Linked DNA regions of Homo sapiens. The protein of the gene in region 3 purifies or fractionates together with the protein of the main gene of each other region. This does not show direct contact. Each region holds a gene or a part of one and is shown on either strand. Other genes may lie near its edges.

The links. Proteins that work in one complex are often made in the same cells at the same time.
Region 1: the proteins of FAM120A (region 3) and PAIP1 purify together in Homo sapiens (co-immunoprecipitation; 2 studies listed by BioGRID and IntAct, with this or other methods). This does not show direct contact.
Region 2: the proteins of FAM120A (region 3) and MRPL42 purify together in Homo sapiens (co-immunoprecipitation; 2 studies listed by BioGRID and IntAct, with this or other methods). This does not show direct contact.
Region 4: the proteins of FAM120A (region 3) and RPUSD4 purify together in Homo sapiens (co-immunoprecipitation; 2 studies listed by BioGRID and IntAct, with this or other methods). This does not show direct contact.

The regions. Positions count from the first base shown.
Region 1 is NC_000005.10:43,547,078-43,550,577, reverse strand, and holds part of PAIP1 (polyadenylate-binding protein-interacting protein 1), read left to right. Parts: intron 1-2,664; coding exon 2,665-2,850; intron 2,851-3,500. UniProt on the Homo sapiens protein: Acts as a coactivator in the regulation of translation initiation of poly(A)-containing mRNAs. Its stimulatory activity on translation is mediated via its action on PABPC1. Competes with PAIP2 for binding to PABPC1.
Region 2 is NC_000012.12:93,512,514-93,516,714, reverse strand, and holds the end of MRPL42 (large ribosomal subunit protein mL42 precursor), read right to left. Parts: 3' UTR 501-4,201; downstream 1-500.
Region 3 is NC_000009.12:93,559,685-93,563,148, reverse strand, and holds part of FAM120A (constitutive coactivator of PPAR-gamma-like protein 1), read right to left. Parts: intron 2,041-3,464; coding exon 1,899-2,040; intron 942-1,898; coding exon 845-941; intron 145-844; coding exon of another isoform or gene 130-144; exon of another isoform or gene 1-129. UniProt on the Homo sapiens protein: Component of the oxidative stress-induced survival signaling. May regulate the activation of SRC family protein kinases. May act as a scaffolding protein enabling SRC family protein kinases to phosphorylate and activate PI3-kinase.
Region 4 is NC_000011.10:126,205,151-126,208,650, reverse strand, and holds part of RPUSD4 (pseudouridylate synthase RPUSD4, mitochondrial), read left to right. Parts: intron 1-2,869; coding exon 2,870-2,963; intron 2,964-3,038; coding exon 3,039-3,183; intron 3,184-3,500. UniProt on the Homo sapiens protein: Catalyzes uridine to pseudouridine isomerization (pseudouridylation) of different mitochondrial RNA substrates. Acts on position 1397 in 16S mitochondrial ribosomal RNA (16S mt-rRNA).

The DNA of each region.
Region 1 (3,500 bases), on a different chromosome or scaffold from region 3:
GATGCAGGCAAAGCCCTTATGGTGTCTATCACATATCATATATGCAGCTGGTGGCTATTAGCTTATTAACTGGAGTACCATCCTAGGTGCCAAGAAATACAGCTTTTTATCATTCATTTTGGATGCTTTTTATACTTTAGTCCCTTTATGTATGAATACATGGCTGTTGCATTTGGAATATGACTCAGTATTCTCCTAGAAATTTAAAATGTAATTCATTTGTTGAACATTCTGTGCTTTACTATGTGCTCTTCACCAATCTAGGTGAATTTGATTAATTCACTTAATCCTCAGAGTCACAGTGATAATATTTATGATTAGTAAATAAATGCATCAACATTAATACCTCCTATTATAGTAGAATGTTTAACTTGAATTCAAATGCGTGACAAAAATCTAATGTATTAGAGTTTATCCTTCTATTCAATGAACACTATATGTGAATGAAAAAGGCACATGAATCTGCTATTTCTGCAGCTGGTTTTACTTCCTGACTGCCTCTCATAGTACATGCAACTTTTGCTAAGTATCACTTCAGTCTCTGAAGATACATAGGCCGGGCATGGTGGCTCTCGCCTGTAATCCCAGCGCTTTGGGAGGCCGAGTTGGGTGGATCATTTGAGGTCAGGAGTTTGAGACCATCCTGATCAACATGGTGAAACCCCATCTCCTCTAAAAATACAAAAAAAATTAGCTGGGCCTGGTGGTACATGCCTGTAGTCCCAGCTACTCTGGGAGGCTGAGGCAGGAGAATTGCTTGAACCTGGGAGGCAGAGGTTGCAGTGAGCCAAGATCTTGCCACTGTACTCCAGCCTGGGTGACAGAGCGAGACTCCATCTCAAAAATAAAAATAAAAAATAAAGATAAAATAAAAAGTGTAAAACATGACCTCCAAATGATGGTTATTTGAAGTGGTAGCACTATAGTGGTCCATTTTCATGCTGCTGACAAAGACATACCCGAGACTGGGAAGAAAAAGAGATTTAATTGGACTTACAGTTCCACAAGGCTGGGAAAGCCTCAGAATCATGGCGGGAGGTGAAAGGCACATCTTACGTGGCCGCAGCAAGAGAAAAATGAGGAAGAAGCAAAAGCGGAAACCCCTGATAAACCCATCAGATCTCGTGAGACGTATTCACTATGACAAGAATAGCACCGGAAAGACTGGCCCCATTGATTCAGTTACCTCCCTCCTGGGTCCCTCCCACAACACATGGGAATTCTGGGAGATACAATTCAAGTTGAGATTTAGGTGGGGACACAGCCAAACCATATCAAGCACCAACAGTAAAGGGACAAGTGGACAATTGGCAATGTTGGTCTTTCTCCTAAGACTGTGTCCTGGGCCAGGCGCAGTGGCCTGTAATCCCAGCACTTTGGGAGGCCAAGGTGGGGGAATCACCTGAAGTCAGAGTTTGAGACCAGCCTGGCCAACATGGTGAAACCCTGTCTCTACTAAAAATACAAAAATTAGCCAGGCATGGTGGTGCATGCCTGTAATCCCAGCTACTTGAGAGGCTGAGGTACAGGAATAGCTTGAACCCGGGAGGCGGAGGTTGCAGTGAGCCAAGATTGCACCACTGCACTCCAGCCTGGGCGACAGAACAAGACTGTCTCAAAGAAAAAAAAAGACTGTCTTTCTCCAACATGGAGCATTTCTAAGGGTGTTTTGACCATGTATGACTTTTTTTTTCTTCTATGCACTCACTGACTTTAGAACTTAACCCCTTCACAAAATGCTTCTGTTTTGTAGTCATAACTTTTTTATGTGGCTTTTCATTTACTCTGTTTGGAGAAGGTTAAATTTCATACAAGCAGTGTAGTTATTATTAGATTTTAACTGTTTGGTAAACTTTAAAGCGCTTCGGGTGGTATTCCAGGCATTGAGATGTGAAAGTTGTTGCTCAAGTCTATTATCTTTTGTAAAACTCGCCCACTCAGCCTTCTGCCATTAATGAAAAGGTTGGAAACTGCCAAAGGTGACAGTGGTGGAAACAACATTAGCTGGAAACTACTGCTGCTATCAAGGTTGTGTTAGCAACCTGGATGTAGCAGCCAAAAGGTCTCCTTCCATTTATACCGTGATGAAATTTTAGTTACTCGAGCAGCTTTATGCATTTCTTTGCCCTTGGGGATTAACAGATGATAAACCTTATTAGGTTTTTGTTTTTGTTTTTTTTTTCCCCAATAAAAAAGTTGTCAACATTTGCAGAAATACAGAGAATGGTATAATGAATCCTCATGGCCTCAACAGTAAGCTACATGTGGCCGTTCTTGTTTTTATATCCCTAGTCCATACTTCCCCTCCCACTTTGAAGCAAATCCTAGATCTTATTTCATTCGTAAGTGGATCAGATTCTTAATTTTTATATTGGCATTGTAGTGAAATATTGGTTTAAACTTTATTCCTCAGCCATCTTAGAAGTTGACCCAGAATGAGAAGACAATTCCCTGTTTAGCTGAACAGAACCTTTCTGCTGTTAATTATAACACTTCAGCTTTTAGGCAAGGAAGAAAAATAGCTCAATTGACAATTTTATTGATGAACATAAATTTTTATCATGTGAGGGATCTTTAAAAAAGCATTTGTGCTAGAGACATACCACCTTGTGTGTTTTAGCCAGTTGCATAGATTAAAATTGTTTTTTCATTTTTGATCCGTAGGAATCCTATGAGGATGGTTGTGAGGATTATCCTACTCTATCAGAATATGTTCAGGATTTTTTGAATCATCTTACAGAGCAGCCTGGCAGTTTTGAAACTGAAATTGAACAGTTTGCAGAGACCCTGAATGGTTGTGTTACAACAGATGATGCTTTGCAAGAACTTGTGGAACTCATCTATCAACAGGTATGTTGGCTTATAGCATGCAGTGACCTTCAGATAGCTTCCTTGAAGCCCAAGGATAGTGGCTACTCCTTGAGGGAGACCAGATTCATGATCACCTGCCTCCACACTTACTCTTTATAGTTTCCGGGAGTTCTAAGTCTGTCTTGTATAAAACTCCTATAGTTAGGGATCCAAGGGTAGAGCCAGACAGGATTGCAAGTTCACATGTGTAGTCAAGATTCAATATAGGTAATATTCACCTGTTTAGCCAAAGCTCTATACAAGCAGTATAGTATAGAAGGTGATATGGGCACTGAAAACGAAGGCTACATAAGTGTCACCCCCACCAAAACCCTGCCCCTTGTTTTGCAGGCTCTGAAATTAGCAGTACCAGAAAAGACTGCAATTCTTTTCCCCTATGTGTTGAATTGAATAGTAGTATTAGAGTAGGGGAGGAAAAAAATTGAGAGAATTTGCTTGCCTCATAAGTAGGTCTTTAAAAAAAAGAAAGCCAAACCATAAAATGTCTTGTCTTAGCATTTCTACTTGCCTTTGCTTTCTTTTAAAATTTAAGGATTTCATCTTAATTCCTTGAAAGTCTAATTTAGTCAGTTGAAATTGTTTCATTATACAACATTTAGTTTTTATCCCAGCATATTGGTCATTAACAT
Region 2 (4,201 bases), on a different chromosome or scaffold from region 3:
AAACACAAAAATTAGCGAGGTGTGGTGGTATGTACCTGTAGTCCCAGCTACTTGGGAGGCTGAGGTAGGAGGATTTCTTGGGCCCAGGAGGTCAAGGCTGCAGTGAGGCCAGATTGAGCCACTGCACTCCAGCCTGAGCAAGAGTGAGATCCTGCCTTAAAAAAAAAAAAGCTCTCAAATATGTACATTTCTGAGTATATTATGTGTAGCTACAGGTAGGTAGGTAGGTACATGGATGACTGATAGATAGATTCAGCACAGACATCTCTCTTGAGCTCCAGAGTCATAAATCCATCCAATTACTTCTTGGATATCTCCACTTGGAGTAACCTACTAATATCTCAAAGGTAACCTGTTAAAAACTGAAGACATTTTCTTCTTCTCCAGTATTCTTTATTTCTATTACTGGCACTACTCACACCTGACTGTCCAAGCAAGAAACTCTGAAATTATTCTTAACATCAATGCTCTTTAACCAGAGACCACCAGGAACACACCTCTAGTTAAACAAGTTGAGTTTATTACTCATTGCAGCAAAGAAGAACACACAACATAGGGAACCATGGGGTGTCTCAGTATGAGAGTGTTTAGAAGAACCTAGTATAGAATTTGGGATTGGGAGAGGGTCTAAGGAAACGGGTTTGCTCCAGATTGGATACTATCAGAAAGAAGGAGAATTTCATGATTATCTCAATACATCTTCTCTATAGGGAAGGCAGACTAGAGCTGGGACAAAGCTGTCACTGGTAAAGTAGCAGTTGCTCATTTTAGCTGAGAGAGGGTGATTTTTGGTATTTTCTGGATGGCACCATGACCCTCTTTTTGCCTGTGCTTAGACAAAATTACAAAGTGGACTTGTTTTTTCTCACTTTATTAAGGTTTCAGAGTCATCTTGTTTAATGTTGGTATTCTGTGAGACTTATGCCCAATAGGAAAATAACATAGCCTAGCTGTGAATGCCAAGTCAGCTTTCAGATGTCAAGAGCAGCTTTTCTCCCCGCTTTTTCATTAATCACTCTCTGCCATTCCGTGTAAATTAGTTGCCAACCCAGGTGCAGTGGCTGATGTCTGTAATCCCAGCCCTTTGGGAGGCCGACGCGGGCGAATCACTTGAGGTCAGGAGCTCGAGACCAGCCTGGCCAGAATGGCGAAACTCCATCTATACTAAAAATACAAAAATTACCTGGGAATGGTGATGCACACCTGTAGTCCCAGCTACTCAGGAGGTTGAGGCACGAAAATTGCTTGAATCCAGGAGGCAGAGGTTGCAGTGAGCCGAGATCACCCCACTGCACTCCAGCCTGGGCAACACAGCAAGTCTCTGTCTCAAAAAAAAAAAAAAAAAATAGTTGCCAAGGCCTATTAATTTTTACTTCCTATGTATCTCTGGCATTTCTTGGTCCCCTCTTCTCCTTCCTTAATCCAGGCCATTATCATTTGTCAGCTGAATGACTCCATCAGTCACTTAACGGTGTGCCCAGGAGTCCATCGTGCTTCCGTTCCAGCCCATCCTCCATGGTCTCCCTGTAGCCAGAGTGAAGGCTCTGAATGCATCATCCCCTGCCAAAAATCTTCTTTGGTTACATTACCAGCTGTTACTAACATTTAAATGGTAAAATTAAAAATCAGTGAGGTTAGCAATGAAAATAAACTTTTTTCTTTTCTCCCGAAAAGGAATCAAGAAGGGTGGAGAGTGTATCTGCAGAAGGAATCAGCTGAGTTTGGAGACTATTTTGATATCCTGATTCCCTCTTAAGAAATGATGACTCAATGCAAATCAAGAGGATGACATGACTGCTAAAAAATGTAATGCATTATTGGCACCATTCGTAAAAGTATACTGTCCACAGTAAAAAAAAATATGTTGTCCTGGGTAATACATTTTAAGAAATATATCATTAAAAGCATGTGTCTAAAGGAGGACAATCAGGATAAGGGAGAGTTCTGGAAACATGTCATATGGATAATAAGAAAAAATAAAGCTTAAAGAAAAATAAGAAGGAATATGACAAATATTTTCAAATAGGAGTAAATTTATTTCATATAGATTCAGGGGGAGAATCAAGTCTGAGGATTATAAACCATAAGCAGACTGATTTCCACTCAATATAAGGAAACACTTTCCATTAAAACTGTCCAATAATGGCCAGGTGCAGTGGCTCATGCCTGTAATGTCAGCACTTTGGGAGGCCAAGGCAGCCAGATCACCTGAGGTCGGGAGTTCAAGACCAGCCTGGTCAACATGGTGAAACCCTGTCTCTACCAAAAAAAAAAATTAGCCAGGTGTGGTGGTGGGTGCCTGTAATCCCAGCTACTCAGGAGGCTGAGGCACAAGAATCGCTTGAGCTTGGGAGGTGGAGGTTGCAATGAACCGAGATTGACAGAGGAGACGCCATCTCAAAAAAAAAAAAAAAAAAAAGAAAGAAAGAAAGAAAAAGCAGAGGGAGAAAACTGTCCAATCATTATTGGAGTTAGGTCCATGGAAACGTAGTGAACTCCTAGTTACTAAAAGAATTCAAGAGAAAGCTGAATAATATTCCAGAAAGTACACTATAAAACAGGAGTTGGCTGGGCATGGTGGCTCACGCCTGTAATCCTAGCACTTTGGGAGGCCGAGGCAGGCAGATCATGAGGTCAGGAGTTCAAGACCAGCCTGACCAACATGGTGAAACCCCGTCTCTACTAAAAATACAAAAATTAGCCGGGTGTGGTGGTGGGCACCTGTAGTCCCAGCTACTCGGAAGGCTGAGGCAGGAGACTTGCTTGAACCTGGGAGACGGAGGTTGCAGTGAGCCAAGATCACACCACTGCACTCCAGCTGGGGTGACAGAGCAAGACTCGGTCTAAAAAAAAACAGGAGTCATTGAACTATCTGTGATGAAAGGATAGTTCTTTAATCCATTGTGGTCTAGTACTTTTATAAATTATAAAATGAAATTAGTAGAATGAAAAACATTTTTTAAAAGCCCCAATTTTTAATTATGTTAATGGATATAAAATTAAATTTCAATAAATAGAATTGGAACACACATAAAACGGAAAGAGAAAAAATTATTTAAAAACTTTCACTGAAAATGTGAATTTAAGATTAATATAATTTCTATAACTCAACTTTTTGTCATTCTTCAATTATAACTGAAGATTATAATTGAAGTAGTGATTCTGTTTATTAGACCATTAGATATACTTTGAATAAACACAATGCATATTAATATTCAAAAGTTTTTAGGTCAAGCAAGGTGGCTCACACCTGTCATCTCAACACTTGTGGGGGCCGAGATGGGAGGATCACTTGAGACCAGGAGTTTGATACCAACCTGGGTAACACAAGGAGACTTGGTCTCTACAAAAAATAAATTTGCCAGGCGTGATGGCAGACACCTGAAGCTCCAGCTGCAGGCTGAGGTGAGAGGATTGCTTGAGCCCAGAAGTTCAAGGTTACAGTGAGCTACGATTGCACCACTGCACTCCAGCCTGGGCAATAAAATGAATGAGACCCTCTCTCTCAAAAAAAAAAAAAAAAAAAAAAAATTCTAAATGTCACAAATGAGCTGGTTTCTTTCTCGTTAAAATATGTAATCCAGGGTAGATTGACAATACTACTACTTTCATGGATTGATGTATATCTAAACTGTTTCCATGGTTTTTAAAAAATATTATTCATAAGATGAAACCAGATTTACAAAGGGATAATGGTCGGAATGGGAAAAAAAAGTTTTTAAACTAATTTCAGCATACTCAGAATATTCACTTTTAACTTTTATCCAAAATGAAGCAAGTGGTGTGGTATTTTCAAAATTCATTTTTAATCCTTCATTAGTTGCCAGTTAGAACAATGTATCATATAAGCTTACAATTAAATTTAAATCCTCTTTTGATGACATAAATGGATTCCAGATCTATGAATTTGCCGTATGTAGACATTCTTTTGTTGGAAAATAAAACTTAAAGCATTCTATCAAATTCACAATAGTTTGATTACTTCTTACAGATGTGCAATATCAAGACAATCACCAACTTCAATGACAATTGTTAAATTATGGAACATGTAATAACAATCTGTAGCAACTCTGGTCTTTCAAGCTTCTACCTTTTGCTTTTGCTCTTTGATTTTATCTGCCATTAAAAAACAAGTTGCATTCCTGCCTTGTATGAAAGAATTCTGAAGCTATCAGAACTGTCTTCAGATAATTGAAGATAG
Region 3 (3,464 bases):
CCTTGCCTAAGGAATGGCCCCCATAAACCAAGGGTCCCCACATACTCTCCTACAACATCCTCTATTTTACCTTCCAACCCTAAAGTTCAGAAATATTAACGCACCCTTCTCCATGAATCAATGCAATCGTCATTTTCTTTGAACCTTGAGACAAATAATATAAAACATAAAAATATAGCAGGACCGCTGGGCATGGTGGCTCACGCCTGTAATTCTAGCACTTTGGGAGGCCAAGGCGGGCGGATCACCTGAGGTCAGGAGTTTGAGACCAGCCTGGCCAACATGGTGAAACTGCAACTCTACTAAAACTACAAAAATTAGCCGAGTGTCGTGGCACACACCTGTAATCCCAGCTATTCGGGAGGCTGACGCAAGCGAATCGCTTGAACCCGGGAAGTGGAGGTTGCAGTGAGCGGAGATTGTGCCACGGCACTCCAGCCTGGGCAATAGAGCGAGACTCCATCTCAAAAAAAAAAAAAAAAAGAAAAAGAAAGAAAGAAAAAAAAAGAAACTACAAGTGGCTGTTCCAGCTCTGTCAGGGCTAGGCAATGCCCAAGGTAAGCCAAGCCCATCGTGTCACACCAGGCGGGAAGCTACCAGAGACACAGGGTCATGGCAAAGGGGAGAGACAACCTGAAGAGGCACTTAACAGCAAAATGATCTGGGCTCTAGGGAATGGACATTTGGTGAGCAGCTGTGTGCCAGTTACTGTGTTAGACACTTGACAGCTAAAGCATTACCCTCACAGCTCTTCTGTCTGAGCGCAGGTACTAGAAGTGCAAGCTCAGACAGGAGACATCCCTGAGGGCATTGAACTGGCACAAACATCATGTTGTCTTCTTACCTGAATTGCTGCCTGGTTTTTGTAACCTCTGCCATAGTACCTTCCACCTCTTCCAAATGTTCTAATCACTGGGGTGGAAATAACTCCTCTTGGACGCCTAAATGAATGAAAAAGGACAACAGTAAACACTTAAATCTGTTACAGACAACATTTAAAATAGTATCAAATGATTTTAAAGCCATCCAATCTTACGTTTTATGAAGCACTGAATTAACCCATTTATGCCGGAAGTTGCAATTTGTTGAATTTTTGCAGTCAGACCTTGAGCAGTAGGACATAAAGAACTCCCACATGCTTTGCGTTCCAATAATGGAACACTAGGCGTAAACAGGTTAAGTATGATCATAGGGAAGATTTATTCCAAGGAATCAATCTTATTTTTTTGGTTCATATCCAATGCATTTGCAGTCAAATGCTCTACCCCTGAGCTACATCTCCCATATCCAATGCATTTGATTTGAAAACTAATACTTTAAAAATATTAAGGCACCTGGTTAATTGAAAATTGTATGGTTAATTATTTAATAATTGTTAATTATTTAATGGTTAATTAAATAATTACATAATACTATAAATGGGATCCTATGCAAACATTATAAATGATGTTAAAGGCTGTGTGCAGTGGCTCACACCTGTAATCCCAGCACTTTGCAAGGCCGAGGTGGGTGGATTGGTTGAGCTCAGGAGTTCAAGACCAACCTGGGCAACATGGCGAAACCCTGTCACTACCAAAAATACAAAAATTAGCCAGGCATGGTGGCACATGACTGTGGTCCCAGCTACTCAGGAGGCTGAAGTGGGAGGATCGATGGAGCCCAGAAAGTCAAGGCTACACTGAACTGTGATTGTGCCACTGCACTCTAGCCTGGGTGACAGTGAGACCCCATCTTAAGATAAATAAATAAATAAAAACTAAATAATTAAATACAAATGATATTAAAGAAGAATGTATCTAATGATATAAAAATGTTCCTACTTAAACTTCCAAAAAAAAGCAAGTTAGAAGCTGTTTTCTTTACTTATACAAAAGACATTTTCGTGGCTCAGAACTTACCCTCTAGCTGGTCCTCCGACAGAAACCACCTGCAGGGGGAAAGGCCCCCGGCCCCCACGGCCCCGCCTGCTCCCAGCCCAATGGCCAACCACAGTGCCAGCTATTTCTAGTTTGCCTCCCTGAGAAGGTATAGGTTGGACTCCTGCATAAAAAATATACAAAAAGACAAAATCTTTACAATCACAGAATTAAGAATAGCAAAAAGATACAAGCAAGAAACTTCTTTTCAGTTTTGGTTTATATTTACTATGAAGCTACTTTCTCCTGTTTTGTACAATTTTTTATTATGTAGTGTATCTATGTGCACACTGTTTGACTTTAAACTACTGTGAAGAACCCATGAGAACTGAATTAGGTTACAACTGCAAATGTGCAAGGCTTTTTAGATAGAAACAGATACAATAAAGTGTCATCAGGTGCATATGGCATGCCTTCTATATTACCAAGATGGCAATCTGCAAACTCAAGAATGTTTTTCTCTTTAGGCGAATACTTCTAGGTTTACTACCTTAACTGAACATCATAGAATCAATAAATCTAGCCTGTATTTCTTACTGTGTTTTTAAATTAGAATTTCCATAAGCAGAGTCACAAATAGAATTTACTAACTTCTTTTGATTACTGCAAATTGTAAGTTTTCTGACCTAAGAAAATTCTCTAATTGCTAATTGGCAGCAAAACTTCTGTTTAAAAACAAAAAAATAAGCAAACAAAACCAGAGCCCCAAGCATCTTGTTTTCTGACAGTGAGAATGGATAATAAACAACTATCATCTTGGTGTTAGCTGTGGCAATTCAGCACTGTCCAACAGAAACCTACAACAAGCTTATATTTTTTTGTAGCCACATGAAAAATGTACAAAGAAACAGAGGAAAGAAGTTTTAAAAATGTATTTATTTAACTCAATGTATCCAAAATAATACTATTTCAACATGTAGTCAAGATTTTTTTTTTTTTAAGACAGGGTCTCGCTCTGTCACCCAGGCTGGAGTGCAGTGGCACAATCACGGCTCACTGCAGCCTTGACCTCCCAGCTCTAGCGATCCTCCCGCCTCAGCCTCCTGAGTAGCTGGGACTACAGGTGTGCACCACCATACCTGGCTAATTTTTAAAATTTTTTGTAGAGGCAGGGGTCTCACTATATTGCCCAGGCTGGTCTTGAACTCCTGCCTCAAGCAATTCTCTCTCCTTGGCCTCCCAAAATGCTGAGATTATAGGCATGAGCCACTGTGCCTGGCCCAAGATAAAAAATTGATTAGCTATTTTAGTCTGCTTCCCATTTTAAGTTTTAAAATCTGATATGTATTTTACATGTTCTAGCCAGAGCTTAAGTGCTCAACAGAGCAGTGGCCAGCAGCTACTATACTAGGCAGTGCAAATCTGAGTTCCAGACACAATTTTAAGAAACTCAGGAAGCAGGTTCCTTTTATCATTCCAGTGTAAGAATTCACTTCTTGCCCTACACTATCCATAGTACAATCTCCCCTCTCCCTCCATCTTTGATCCCAACTACAGGCCAGCTTCAGTTTCAAGGCACTAGAAGGAGCTGAAGCAAATCAAGAAGCA
Region 4 (3,500 bases), on a different chromosome or scaffold from region 3:
ATATCACATTGTACAATTTACATTATACTTTTTTCCTCTGCTCACCTCTATGTCTTGGGGATCATCCTGTGTTAGCACATAGAGGTTTACCTCAGTGTTTTTCATAGAAAAAAGATGCGTGAGCAAAAAAGAAACCCTCTATTCCCCATCTGTGCAGTTGCCTTCCCCAGCGTCAATCGCTGTGACTGGTGTCTTCTGTAAACTTCCAGAGTTATCGAGCATATATAAGCATATTACTGTATGCTAGTGTATTTCACACAGAGTTTTGTACCCTACAGTTTTCACTTGGATCATATATCTTAGAGCATTTTGTGTCATACGTTTAGAGCTGTCTCCTTTTTAATTGCTCTGTGAAATACCGCTGTATGGATGGATATTTAGGTAATTTCTCATTTTTTAGAGCCTATTGCAAAGAATATGTGAATGTATTTTTAAGATAAATTTCTAAAAATTGAATCGCTGGGCTGAATGGTTTGTATATTTAAATTTTAATAGTACTCACATTGCTCTCCACAAAGGTTTTTTATCAGTTTACATTCCCACCAGCAGTGGTGAGTACCCACCTCCCCTTATCAGCCAAAGCATTTTTAAAGGGTTTGCCACTGTGATAAGTTAAAAAAAAAAAAGATATTTTCTATTTCCTTGTATAACAGTGATATTGGCTATCAATTTACATGTTTTTTACATGTTTATTGGCTATTTGAGTTTCCCTTTTGGGAACAGACTGATTATTTCTTTTGCCTATTTTTCTACAGGGTTGTTTATTATTATTATTTTTTTTTATTTAAGACCGTGCCTGGCCTTTTTTTTTTGAGATGGAGTCTTGCTGTGTCACCCAGGCTGGAGGGCAGTGGCACAATCTTGGCTCACTGCAACCTCCTCCCTGGTTCAAGTGGTTCTCATGTTTCAGCTAGCTGGAATTACAGGCACATGCCACCATGCCCAGCTAATTTTTGTATTTTTAGTAGAGATGGGGTTTCAGCCTGTTGGCCAGGCTGGTCTTGAACCCCTGACCTAAAGTGATCTGTCCATCAAAGTGCTAGGATTACAGCGCTTACAGCTCACAGGCGTGAGCCACTGTGTCTGGCCCAGGTTGTTTATTCTTTTCTATTTGATTTGTAAGTATTCATTTTATATTTTGAATGTTAGTCCTTTTTAGATTACAGATTTTGCAGATACTTTGTGAATCTGAGGAGCCCTTTAAAAATATGTATGATTGAGACTTACCCACAGAAGTTCTCATTCGTAAGTGTGGTGGTTGTGGGGATTGGCATCTGTATTTTAAAATTTGATATACAATCAAATTTAAGAACTATGATAAGATTATGGAGAATGGAGGAATTTAGGACAGTAGCTAAGACCTCAAAAAGATGTGTGTTCAACTCTCAACTGTGTCATTTAACAGCTGTGGGGCCTTGGGCAGGTTATTAAATGTCCATAAGCTTTGTTTTCTTCATCTGAAAAATGGAAACAGTAGGATTTATGAGATAGTTAAATAAGATTGATTCTTGTGAAATGTTTAACACAGTACCTAGTTCATAGGAAAAGTTAAAAAATAAAAAATAGAGACTTATTTTTCTATTCAAGCAATCAAAATATTAAGACTATAAAATACATGTTATGTTATTTGTGAAAAATGTCCATTAAGGTTCAAAATTGGTAACCATTCTCGGTATCAGGTTCATGGAGGAATTGAAATCAATCAGTTGGGTCTTGCTGATGGAACATTCTTGAGTTGTAGTGTCATATCATTAGGAAGGACATTCTTGTCACAGAAGATCTACAAAATCTGTAAAATACGATAAAATGTACCAGATAGTAGCTGAAACTGAAGTGGAGTGTCTGCGTTGTGAAATAGTGTGTGTGAGTAGGATTTTGACCCCGTGGTTAGTGATTATACAACCGACCACCAGGTACCCAGATGGACTTTTCCATCATTGACCTGAAAGAGGCATAAATTTACAGACAGATTAAACAGTCTTCTACCTGTCTGTGAGGTCATGAGGTCATGGGAGGGAGAACACCAACAGAAGTGATTTGGAATGAGTTATTGAGTTGTGGTTGTGGTACCTATGACTTCTTTCTTTCTTTTTTTAGACGGAGTCTTGCTGTGTCTCCCAGGCTGGAGTGCAGTGGCATAATCTTGGCCCACTGCAACCTCCACCTCCTGGATTCAAGCGATTCTCATGCCTCAGCCTCCCAAGTAGCTGGAATTACAGGCACGCGCCACCACGCCTGGCTGATTTTTTTTTTGTATTTTTAGTAGAGATGGGGTTTCACCATGTTGGCCAGGCTGGTCTTGAACTCCTGACCTGAAGTGATCCACCCGCCTTGGCCTCCCAAAGTATTGGGATTACATGTGTGAGCCACCACGCCTGTCCCCTGTGACTTCTTCGGGTACAGTTCCCTCCTGTTTTACCTATGTGGCAAATGAGCCAGGAACGGTTCTCTGAATGTTTTATTAGGTTCATTCATCCAATTATTCATTTGTTCATTTACCATGCAGTCAGAATCTACAATCTTTTATTATTTGAAAAAAAATACAAAACTATATTACCATAATTTTATTTTAACTGTACATATCCATTTTTAAAGACTGGAAAGACCATGTTATTAATGTAATTTTTTTCTTTTTTTACCCCAAATATTCTACAATTAGCATGTATGACTTTAGTAGTAAAAAAGATAAGCTTGTGAAATCTATCAGCTCTCAGGCTAAGCATTACACCAAGAGAATCTTGCACGATCCTTCAATCATAAGAAATCACATGTTAGTGCAGAAGGTCCAGCGTGAAATCCTCTAAGTGGCCAAATCTAGGAGTTCTTCTCTGGCTTGGTTGGCTAAAGCAGTGATCTGTGTCACCCCCAGGGCCATCACTGTGCATGTCCCCATGCCCTCAGCAGGAGTCGTGGACATCCCCATTGTGGAGAAGGAGGCGCAAGGCCAGCAGCAACACCACAAGGTGAGCGAGCAGCCTCCCTGAGGCATGGGTTGCTGCTCTTCCTTGGGAATCATATCTTGATTTCTTTGGCTTCAGATGACATTGTCCCCGAGCTACCGCATGGACGATGGGAAAATGGTGAAAGTGCGGCGCAGCCGGAATGCGCAAGTTGCTGTAACTCAGTACCAGGTGCTCAGCAGCACTCTCTCCTCCGCCCTCGTGGAGCTCCAGCCCATCACTGGTGAGAGTGTCACTTTTCCGCAGTGGGATCACAAAACCCTGTGCCACCAGGTTTTGTCCAGGGCCTCGTTCTGAGCAGCTAGTAGTGTGGCTGACTTGTGTGAGAATGTGCTTCTGGTGCTGATCTGAGGCCGGGGACTCCCAGAGAGATGGTTGTGGCTAGCAGAAGAATACAAACAGGTTGAATGCCTCTATTTAAAACTGTGTAGAGTGGTTCCTCAAAACGATTAAACAGAATTATTGTAAGATCCAGCAGTTCCACTTCTGGGTATATACCCCAAAAATCAAATATTTGCACACATATTCATAGCAGCGTTA